Linked DNA regions of Homo sapiens: region 1 is linked to region 2. The links come from fine-mapping of genetic effects on gene expression. A gene starts in region 2. The other region holds a variant in brackets. All regions are shown on one strand. Distances are from middle to middle. Region 1 overlaps TAOK2 (TAO kinase 2). Region 2 holds the start of GDPD3 (glycerophosphodiester phosphodiesterase domain containing 3).

The links. PIP is the estimated chance that this variant, and not a neighbour inherited with it, causes the effect.
Region 1: its variant is the best candidate, but not a certain one, in a credible set for the expression of GDPD3 in whole blood (TOPMed, PIP 0.77).

Annotation. Positions count from the first base shown.
Region 1 is chr16:29,976,467-29,981,830 of GRCh38, forward strand. It overlaps TAOK2 (TAO kinase 2), which reads left to right. Exons shown (of 16, transcript NM_016151.4): 2 at 1,272-1,438; 3 at 1,623-1,694; 4 at 1,786-1,887; 5 at 2,333-2,378; 6 at 2,508-2,604; 7 at 2,729-2,842; 8 at 2,951-3,042; 9 at 5,195-5,288. The coding sequence starts at 1,307. Among named protein-coding and RNA genes, the nearest start is that of TAOK2, 5.3 kb to the left of the region's middle. RefSeq lists an enhancer at 1-295. The variant G/A (reference allele first, on the strand shown) is at 2,240.
Region 2 is chr16:30,111,460-30,116,823 of GRCh38, forward strand. It overlaps GDPD3 (glycerophosphodiester phosphodiesterase domain containing 3), which reads right to left and starts at 2,078. Exons shown (of 10, transcript NM_024307.3): 1 at 1,881-2,078; 2 at 1,563-1,605; 3 at 1,199-1,334; 4 at 1,064-1,109; 5 at 847-965; 6 at 673-762; 7 at 1-62. The coding sequence starts at 2,019. It overlaps MAPK3 (mitogen-activated protein kinase 3), which reads right to left. Exons shown (of 9, transcript NM_002746.3): 8 at 5,177-5,331; 9 at 2,646-3,249. The coding sequence ends at 5,209. RefSeq lists a silencer at 2,049-2,343.

The DNA of each region.
Region 1 (5,364 bases), 130 kb before region 2:
ATTACATGCTAAAATTGTTAGGTGCTTTTGAGTAGCTAGAACTCTGCCCCAGGAGTCCAGCTCTGCTGAAGGCTCCTTTGTGCCTAAATTCTGACAAGTGCTTAGGCTGGAGCCTGTCTTGGAATCTCCTTGAGGGTTTTGGTTCTGGTATCCTGCAGGAACTTTCTCCGGGTGTTTGGTTGGGTGCCCTAGGTGCTCTTCCCAATGGCTGGAGTGGTCAGGACAGGCTTCCTGCAAGAGGGGAGCTGAGCTTGGGGTGACAGCTGAGAGAGTAATGGATACAGGCCTAACCGGGGAGCCGAAGGTCCTGTTCTCTGACCTTGGAGAAGTCCTTTTTCTTCTCTGTGCCTCAGTGACCTCACCTAGGAAATGGTGATCATGATTCTGCCCTGCCTGTTTCGAAGGGCTGCTCTGAAATCATAGTGATGGAGGACCAGCTTTGGACAAGGCACTTAACCTTGCTGAGCCTGTTTCTTTATCTGTAAGATAGGGGAAATCATAGTACTTGCTTCATAAGGTTGTAGTGAGGACTGAATAGAGATAATGCACGTAAGGTACTCAGTAAATGTTATTTGTACCCTGCAAATGTCCTGTACCTGTGTGTGATGCTTATGCAGTTGGACAGGACAAGTAAGGTGGCCCAGAGCACAGAGAGGCCCTCATAGCCAGATGCCATTTATATCCCTATTCTTCCCATTCTAGATCTCCCCCTGACTTTTTTGAGAGTGACTTTGCGGGCTCCTCTGGGCCAGTACCCACTTCTAACAATGGACGGATTTCCACCGCCTCCGGCCTGGCCATTTCCTGTTCTCTTCCAGGGTGTGAGAGGTTGAGGGAGGAGGGGGCCTCAGCGCCAAGGGGAACAGAAAGGTGCCTGGAAACAGTTGGGGTATAGGACTTATGGGACAGGACACTTGGGGCTCTGGAGTGCTGGCTGGGAAGCAGAATGTTTTATCCTTGAGGGGAGATACAGGGGCTATAGGGAAATGAGAACTTGTTGAGCACTGAAGGGGGTGGTGAGGATACTTAGCTTCCCAGAATCTTCCTAGCAGTTTTAGGGACTCCAGGGACCCAGCCCGCGTGATCTGGTTGCCAGGGCAACTTCATTTTTTGGAGCTTTGATGTTGTTCCTAATCTCCCCCTCCCCTTCCTCAGCAGTGCCTCCTCCTCATCAGGGAATGAGGGGAGGAGATGGCAGAAACTTGATGGGTCCCTTCCTCTCCCTGAAGGCTCAATCCTTGATCTCTAAGGGTCCCATTTCCATTCCTCAGGCCAGGCCCCACTCTCAGGGCCCCCAGGGGCCACCATGCCAGCTGGGGGCCGGGCCGGGAGCCTGAAGGACCCAGATGTGGCTGAGCTCTTCTTCAAGGATGACCCAGAAAAGCTCTTCTCTGACCTCCGGGAAATTGGCCATGGCAGCTTTGGAGCCGTATACTTTGTGAGTTGGGTCTTGGGAGGGTGTAATAGGGATGGGGACTCTTCCTATCCCTGTGGACTTCCCAACAGCCCTTGCACACTACTCCATCACACTGGTCTTTCCTGCCTTCTCTTGCTGGGCCAGCAAGTCTTCCCATGCCCGGCTCTCAATGGGGCCTTCAACACCTTCTGGTCTGGTCCTCTAGGCCCGGGATGTCCGGAATAGTGAGGTGGTGGCCATCAAGAAGATGTCCTACAGTGGGAAGCAGTCCAATGAGGTGGGCCAGGTGCAATACAGCCAGGTTGGGGACAGGGGACTCCTGTCTCAAGATGCAAGCTGGGTAACCTCTGCCTACCCTGACCCCCTAGAAATGGCAAGACATCATCAAGGAGGTGCGGTTCTTACAGAAGCTCCGGCATCCCAACACCATTCAGTACCGGGGCTGTTACCTGAGGGAGCACACGGCTTGGGTGAGCTGGTGCCAGATTCTGGCCTGATCTTTACTCCTATTCATGCCCGTCCTTATCGTAGTCCAGTCTCTTAGGTGGTCCCTGTTCGTGGTGCTGTTGTGGGATCTTGGGAAGGAGGAAGTCTCTTTTGACCGCTTTAGTCCTCAGACATACCCACTGAGCAAAAGCCTGGCTCAGTGACACAGGCTGTTAGCAGGTGGGACAGGTCACTGTGGGCTGGAGAAGGTGGAGATTGAATGGGAGTTTGAAGGGATTCAGATGGGCAGTGGTGAATGTCTTGGGCCCAGACTCTAGAAACTCTCCCACCACCCCCTCATTGTCTCCAGTTGCGCTTCCTCCCTGTCATCACCCC[G/A]GGGACATAGCTTGAGTACAGGACAGTCAAGGAAGCTCTGTTTTGAGTCCCTGCCCAGGAGACTCTGATCTCTGACCCTTGTCTCTTCCTTAGCTGGTAATGGAGTATTGCCTGGGCTCAGCTTCTGACCTTCTAGAAGGTAAGTGACTGATAGGCCAATAAGTGGAGAAGGGAGAAGAGCAGGGGAGCCATAGGGAAGGGTTAAGGGGAGTTTATTCCAGTCCCACCCTTGCGCTCCCTCGGGTTGATGTTCTTCCTCACTCTCCAGTGCACAAGAAACCCCTTCAGGAGGTAGAGATCGCAGCTGTGACCCACGGGGCGCTTCAGGGCCTGGCATATCTGCACTCCCACAACATGATCCATAGGTACAAGCAGCACCGGCAGTGCCTGGGAGGGGAGTGCTATCTGCACCACCTGTCACTTAGCTGGGCTGCCCCTGCCTAGCTTTCTTGAGACACATGTCTCATCCCTGTACTTTGCCTCTGGCAGGGATGTGAAGGCTGGAAACATCCTGCTGTCAGAGCCAGGGTTAGTGAAGCTAGGGGACTTTGGTTCTGCGTCCATCATGGCACCTGCCAACTCCTTCGTGGGCACCCCATACTGGTGAGTGAGTGAGTGGTGGTGAGTGGAGAGACCTCCCAGGGATGTTGGGAGTAGGAGTGACAGGGTCTCGGCGGGTGATTTGCCTCTCTCTCCTGACCATTCTCCTAGGATGGCACCCGAGGTGATCCTGGCCATGGATGAGGGGCAGTACGATGGCAAAGTGGACGTCTGGTCCTTGGGGATAACCTGCATCGAGCTGGGTAAGAACATCCTCCCTGTTCCCTCATCATCTTTTCCATTCTTTCCTGTTAGTTCCCAGACTCCGGACTACCCCCTTCTCCTAGGGATGGGATCCCAGGCCTCCAAGTTCCTGTCCGTTGTGACTCTACCCTGGAGCCCAATACAGGCAGCTGGCAAATTCTGCCAGCTCTTAGGCCTAGAGATTTTGTAGCATTCATCTCTTCCTGTCCACTACCCTGGTTCTGAATCTTTTCTTAGTGCCCACCATGTGCTGTGCCATGGACTGTGATTCTGGAGGGATAGCAGTGAATGAAAATCCTGCCCTCATGGAACTTACATTTGATTTAGGGAAACCAGGCAGGCATGTTTTCTTTCAATGTGATGAACGCTGTGTGGAGAAGTTACAGGAGCGGTTCAAATGTAAAACAGGGGACTTGACCTAGTTTAGGGGCTGAAGAAGGCCTCCTTGTAGGAGAATATTGAAGCCAACCTGCAAGATAAATAATAGCTGTTTGCAGAATGTAGGGAAGAGCTTTCCAGGCAGAGAGAACAGCATGTGAGAGGCCTAGAGGTAAGTGCAGGCCTGGGGAACTGGGACTAGCTTCAGTTATTTGGAACCTAGCATGTAATGCAGAGAATATTGAAGGATAAGGCCAGAGAGTTAGGTCCAAGTGAGTTCCTAAGGCCTTGAAGCCATGCCAAGGTTCTCATCTCTGTCAGCCAGCACTATTGAAACAATTCTTTAATGAGGTAGGTAACCTTTATAAGGCTTCCAACACAATGCCAGGCACAAAACAGTTGCCTAAGAGTTGCTGTTAGTTTCTCTTATCAACAGCCTCCTGCAGTGATCTCTCCAGTCTCTTCTCCCTTCCAGTCTGTCTTAAGTACTGATGCCAGAGAGGTCTGCCTAAGCTCAGTGCTGTCATTTCACTCCCTGTTTGGAGCCATGAGTGGCCCCCTGTTGCCTTCAAGACTGAAGCCATCCCCATCCTTCCTCCCACCAACCTAGAGGCTTTGCTTCGTAAATGCTGGCCCTTTCCTTCATGGGCTCCACCCTCTGAGTGTGTCATGAACTCTTCCACTTCCTTGCCTTGGTTCGTATTGGGTCCTCTGCCCGAGGTCAGAGATTTGGACGAGCCCTTCTCCTCCATCTTCACAGTCTCCATTTACCATTAGATGCCAGGCCCAGACAGTTGATGAAAAATGTAAGAAACGGACCCAAGTATAAGAAAAAGCTAGATCTGTCCATTTTATTTCTAGTTTTTGGAAGAGATGTGGATACAGAGAAATATTACTCTACTATTGAAAAAAATATATATCAGTCTGATTATAAATGTCAACTCATACTAAGTCAATATCAGGGAAGCAGTGTGGAGAAGGATGTGGCAAACTGGAGATTGCTGTTTCCATAGAAAGAGGGCAGCTAATGCTTATCTCCAGACCATTGTTATGCAGTAATGTAGACTCCATTTCACCAGATTTAATTCTTAAGGAGAAACTGGAAACTTGTATTATTATTTGATTATTACTTTTGGCAGTTAATTTTAAAAATCACCGTTTAGGCCAAAACAACATGACATTTGTCTGGGCTACAAGGGACTCTTAGCGACTCTTAGCTTGCACTTACCTTTCTAATCTCAGGGCTTTTTACAAAGCCCTTCTCTGAATTCCCTGAAGATATGCTAGCTTGAAGGCTCACTGCATACTCTCAACTTCCCAGCCACTTCCCTGTTTCCCTCTTATACCAGTTAATACTTTGATGTTATTTTTTCAGTCCTATTTAATCTTTTAGACTGGAGGTTCCTTGAGGGTGGGGCCTAATTCTTGTTTTTATCTTCCCCATAGCAATTATCAAGTTATCTGCTCCCTTTGGCACCTAAGAAATATTAGTTGGGGTGATAACTGAATGGCTGTCCTTCTGCCTTCGTTACTGCTTTTGTGGATGTTATTTTCTTTGACCCCTATTCCACCCGTGTGCAGTGGAGAGGATGGGTGTTGTATTTTACAGAGGAAGGAATTAACTGAGACGCAACAGGATGATGGGAACTTCTCAAGGTCATGTGGCAAGGAAGTCAAGGAATTGGGGTTTGAACCCAAGTCGTCTCAGTTCCATTCCATTGTCCTCTACCCCCTGCCACCTCTCACCTTCTTCCCTTTCACCTTTTTCTGTAGCTGAACGGAAACCACCGCTCTTTAACATGAATGCGATGAGTGCCTTATACCACATTGCACAGAACGAATCCCCCGTGCTCCAGTCAGGACACTGGTGAGGACTGAGATTCCGAATCTGGGCCCAGGCGTTAGGCCATGGGGTATGGATGCCTGACTCATGCCTTCCCCAC
Region 2 (5,364 bases):
TAGTAGGAAAGCAGCACCCAGAATCCTCGGCTTATTGTGAAGGACAGGGGCATCTCGGGGTTCTGGGGAGGCAAGGAGAGGCATGAGAATCTGTCTGCTCTGGGGAAGCAGAGAGGAGGCATGAGCTGCAGGGGAGCCGTGGTGGGCATTCCAGAGGCCCTACTACCTGCAGGATCCAAGTCACATCTTGGGGCTGGGTGTGGTGGCTCACGCCTGTAACCTCAGCAGTTTGGGAGGCTGAGGCAGGTGGATCACCTGAGATCAGGAGTTCAAGACCAGCCTGGCTAACATGGTAAAACCCCATCTCTACTAAAAATACAAAAATTAGCTGGGCGTGGTGGCGTGCACCTGTAATCCCAGCTACTCGGGAGGCTGAAGCATGAGAATCGCTTGAACCCAGGAGGCAGAGGTTGCAGTGAGCCGAGGTCGCACCACCGCACTCCAGCCTGGGCGACAGAGAGAGACTGTGTTTCAAAAAAGAAAAAAAACAAAAGTCACATCTTGGCTCTGTGTTCGAGGCCTGAGTTCACACCCTTTTCATTGCCACCGCCACGCCACTGGGAACTCTCCCAGACCCCTCTAGCTCGGGTCCCCATGCTGGGTGGGCTCCAGCTCTGGGGAGGAGGGGCCCCTGGAGGAGGAAGAGGACGGGGGAGGGGTGGGGGGACTCACGGCAGCCTTGCATTTCTTCATGACCGAGCTCTTCTCCGAGGCCCAGATGGTGATTTCATTACGGTCATAGCGTCTCACCAAGCCTGCTATCTGGGAGGAGGAGAAGGAGGTGAAGGGAGAGCCAGGCCTCTCTCACGCCCCCGGTGGCCGCCCTAGCCCTGCCTGCAGCACCACCTCACGGATGAGCTCTTCGTTCTTCCCTTTGATCTCTACGCTCATGGGTGTCCTTGGAAACCTCTGGAACAGGTCCTCCAGACGAACCATGCGCCGGTCTGACCCGTGAGCAAAGTGGCCTGGGGGTGGTGTGGGAAAAGGGGTCAGAGGGAAGCCAAGGCGGAGGTCCAAGGAAGGCAGGCATGGCCCAGGCAGGGCTCGAAGCCCTTGCTCTCACCTGGAGAGAAGTAAACCTCCAGCTTCTCCTTGTAGAGGGGCAGGTCCTGGGGAGGACAGGAAGGATGTCACTAGAGGCCCGCATTGGGCATGGTGACTCTCAGGGTGGGGGTTGGGGTGTCAGGGCAGGGCCCACCTCGAAGTCCAGGCTGCCCACATCCCTGTTTAGGCCCGACTGGCGGCACAGGTTCTCATCATGTGACACCACCACCACTCTGTCCCGTGTCAGCTGACAGTCGAGCTCCAGGAGGTCCGAGCGCTGGGCCATGGAGCTGTGGGGGTGAAGGTCAGCGGGGGGCAGGGGCAGGGGACTGGGATGAGGGGCATGGTGGCTGGGAGGTGGCCGGGAATGTGAGAGCGGAGTTCGTGGCGGGATGTGCAGGCCACCTCCAGGGGGCGCCAGTCACCCAGCTAGGAAGTGAATGGCGTCCCTTGCTGTGATGCAGTCCACGACCTGCACACCCTCACATGGCAGCCTGGGCAGGGGCAGATACACTCACTTCTCCATGGCCTCCATGGTGTTCTCCAGCAGCTCTCCAGATCCTGTGGGGGGCACTGGAGTGGGCCTCTGGGGCTTGGGGTCTAGGGGCCTGGCCCAACCTCATCACCCACATTCCCTCTCTGGGCTCCATCCTCCCTCTGGCCTCACCTCCCCAGCCAGCCCAGGCTGCGCCAGCATCTTCTTCCTCGTCCACACCCTGCCCTGCCACTTCGCTCTCCTTCTCTCTTGGTCCCTGCCCCGTTTCTAGCATGCCCCCTTGGACCTACCCCTCTGTGCTGTCCACTTTGGCACCTGTTCTCACCCCTACCCGGCTCACCTCCTCGGTGGGCCCCCAGGCGGATGCGGAAGGTGGGAGCCCTGGGCGTGTGCAGCAGATGAGGCCGGCGCAGGAAGAAGATGGAGAGCATGGCATAGCTGCCCAGGGCAGGGAGGGCATAGTACAGCAAAAGGCTCATGACCGTACTCCCACAGAAGCTCCTGCAGCCACACGCTCAGCCGTCCGCGGGACTGTGCTGCCTGCCTAGCCAGTGTGGGCCGGCTCTACTACTGGCCACTGCCACGCCCCTGGGACCTGCTGAGCCTGCCGCTGGGCTGGCTTGGAGCCAGGCTGCAGGGTTCGGCTGAAGCTGGGGTAGTGTCAGGAGGTGAGGCAAGTAGCCCTGGCTCTCATATCCCCAGGCCCTTCCCAGCCCCCAGCAGCCCCGTCCTGGGCTACATGAGGGGAGTAAAAACCACCCAGGACTGTCAGGACCTCTCCCTCTCACTGGTACTTGTAGCCAGCGCATCCAACATGCCTACCCCTTGCCATTTCAGAGGATCCAGGGGTGTGTAGGGTGCTCCTGAGTCACCCCGAATCACCCCCAGCCAGTTAGACAGGAAGCCATTAGCGAGAGGACAGGACAGTGACTAAGGGGAAAACTGACCCCCTTCTTTCTAGGAGTCTGGAGCTCTCCAGAGCCCCGTCCCCAGCCCTGGGCAGCTGGGAGTGAAGGGCACCAGGCCCCTGAAAGCCCAAGTCAAGTCTGTCCTCAGAGCCGCACGGGGCAGGGCGGGGGCGTCGCGAACACAGACAGAGCCAGGGTCAGCCATAGACACATCTCTATATTTATATATTAGACGGGTCAGGGAGGTGGCAGGGGCGCCGGGCTCTCCACGCCCCCCAGCTCCACTTCTGCTCACCACACACAGAAGCAGCGAGGGCACGCGAAGTGACAGCTTTGACAGGGAGGGGATTCGGCCCGGCCTGGCTCCTCAGGGATGCTAGCCCTTGAGACTAAGGAATGTTCCTTCAGGGAAACTAGGGTGGGGTTTGAATGAGATGAGGGGGGCAGGCATGGCCCTGAGTCCCTACTCAGCGCCCCCCACCCTCCACCTCTGCCCTTCAGCAGGTTGGGGCAGCCAGAACCCTTCCATTCCAGAACTGCCAGAGACTGGGACGCTGGGGAAGGTAAGGGCGCAGCAGCAGCAGCGGGAGATTGAACTGGGGCCACCTGAGGTCCCGAGGCCCCGTGGGGAGGGCGGGTGGGGAGGAGAAGGCCTTGGCCTGCCTGAAGCTGGAGGCCTCAGCAAAGGAGAGAGGTGGCCAGGCCCATGCTCCACCCCGGCCTGGGCTGCCAAGGTCCGGGCTGGGCACAGTGTCCATTTTCTAACAGTCTGGCGGGAGAGGGGCAGGCAGGAGGCAGGTCCTAAAGAGAGAAGCAGGCAGAAGAGGAGTCGTTAGCACCCCCCGGGCAGACCCACTGGAGCCCTGACCTCAACATCTCTCATTTCACCCTCACAGCTGGATAGGCTGGGTCTCAGTTTCCTTATCTGTAAATGGAGATAATAATAGTACCTAGCTTGAGGTACTGCTGTAAGATTAAAGGAATTAATACATGTAAACCTCTTAGAACAATGCTTAGGGCTTTATGCTTTCATTATTAGAACTGTCTCGGCCGGGCACAGTGGCTCACGCCTATAATCCCAGCACTTTGAGAAGCTGAGGTGGTGGATCGCTTGAGCCCAGGAGTTTGAGACTGGCCTGGGCAACATAGCAAGACCCCAGCTCCACAAAAAAAAAAAAAAAAAATTAGCCGGTTGCAATGGCTCGTCCAGCTAGCTGGGAGGATCCCTTGCACCCAGGAGTTTTGAGGCTGCAGTGAGCTATGATTGCACCACTGCATTCCAGCCTGGGTGACAGAGCGAGACACTGTCTCAAAAAAACAAAACCAAAAAAAAAGATAAATAGATTGACTCCGGAAACTGAGGCGCCGAGAGGTGAGGTGCCTTGCCCAATATCACACAGCACTTACTAAGTGGCACAGCTGGAGTTTGAGCCCAGGTGCGCATGCCTTCTTTCTATCAGGCCACACCTGGCTGAAGACAGGAAGAGACCGGAGGAGGCAAGGAGGCAGCGTGGGTGGGGGCAGGCCAGTGGGGTCCCCACAGCTATGTGAACTGCTGATCTGGCAGCAGGTGTGAGGAGGCCTGGCAATCTGGGTCAGGCTGGGCGCTGCTGGGCCCCTCCCAAAGCAATCATGGCCCCACCTGCTTCTGCCACACCCAGAGCTGAAGCTTGGCTCAGGTCCTCACCTGGGTGACAGAGGCCCTCAGTGACCTCTTGCCTCTTTGCCAGTTCTGTTCCTAGAAGGAGATTAGAATGGCTTGTGGGGCTGGAGGATGCAAGGTGTTGACAGGCAGAGACATTTGGGGCTGGAGGACTCGGTGGGCCACCAGTCTGGGCAGCCTTGGGCATTTTTTTTTTTTTTTTTGAGATGGAGTCTTGCTCTGTAGTCCAGGCTGGAGTGCAGTGGTGCGATCTCGGCTCACTGCAACCTCTGCCTCCTGGGTTCAAGCAATTCTCCTGCCTCAGCCTCCTGAGTAGCTGGGATTATAGGCATGTGCCACCACACCCAGCTCATTTTTGTATTCTTTACAGTAGAGACCGGGTTTCACCATGTTGGCCAGGCTGGTCTCAACTCTTGACCTTGTGATCCACCCACCTCGGCCTCCCAAAGTGCTGGGATTACAGGCATGAGCCACTGTGCCCAGCCCTTTTTTTTTTTTTTTTGAGAGAGTCTCACTGTTGCCCAGGCTGGAGTACAGTGGTGCAACCTCCGCCTCCCAGGTTCAAGCAGTCCTCCCACCACAGCCTCCTGAGTAGCTGGGACTAGAAGCGCATGCCTACGTGCCCGGCTAATTTTTGTATTTTTAGTAGAGACAGGGTTTCACCACGTTGGCCAGGCAGGCTGGTCTCGGACTCCTGACCTCAGGTGATCCACTTGCCTCAGCCTCCCAAAGTGCTGGGATTACCAGAGTGACCCACTGTGCCCGGCTAATTTTTGTATTTTTAGTATAGATGGGATTTCACCATGCAGGCCAGGCTGGTCTCAAACTCCTGACCCTCAGGTGATCCACTCCTCTCAGTCTCAGTCTCCCAAAGTGCTGGGATTCCAGGCATGAGCCACCACACCCAGCCCCCTGGGCACTTCTGTTGTCACCAGACACATTGACCATGGGTGTGGGGTAAGCTTGCTGCTGTATGGAGGCATGTACAGATAGATATAGATATAGATATACAGATATAGATATTTAGTATCAGGGTGTCCATGTGTGGGCCATGGAGACACTCACCAGGCCCCAGGGTGCAGAGATGTCTGTCTGGGCTAGGGGGCCTCCAGCACTCCGGGCTGGAAGCGTGCTGTCTCCTGGAAGATGAGCTCCTTCAGCCGCTCCTTAGGTAGGTCATCCAGCTCCATGGCGAAGGTGAAGGGCTCCTCGGCCACTGGCTGGGGTGGTAGAGACAGCAAGGCTCAGGCCTG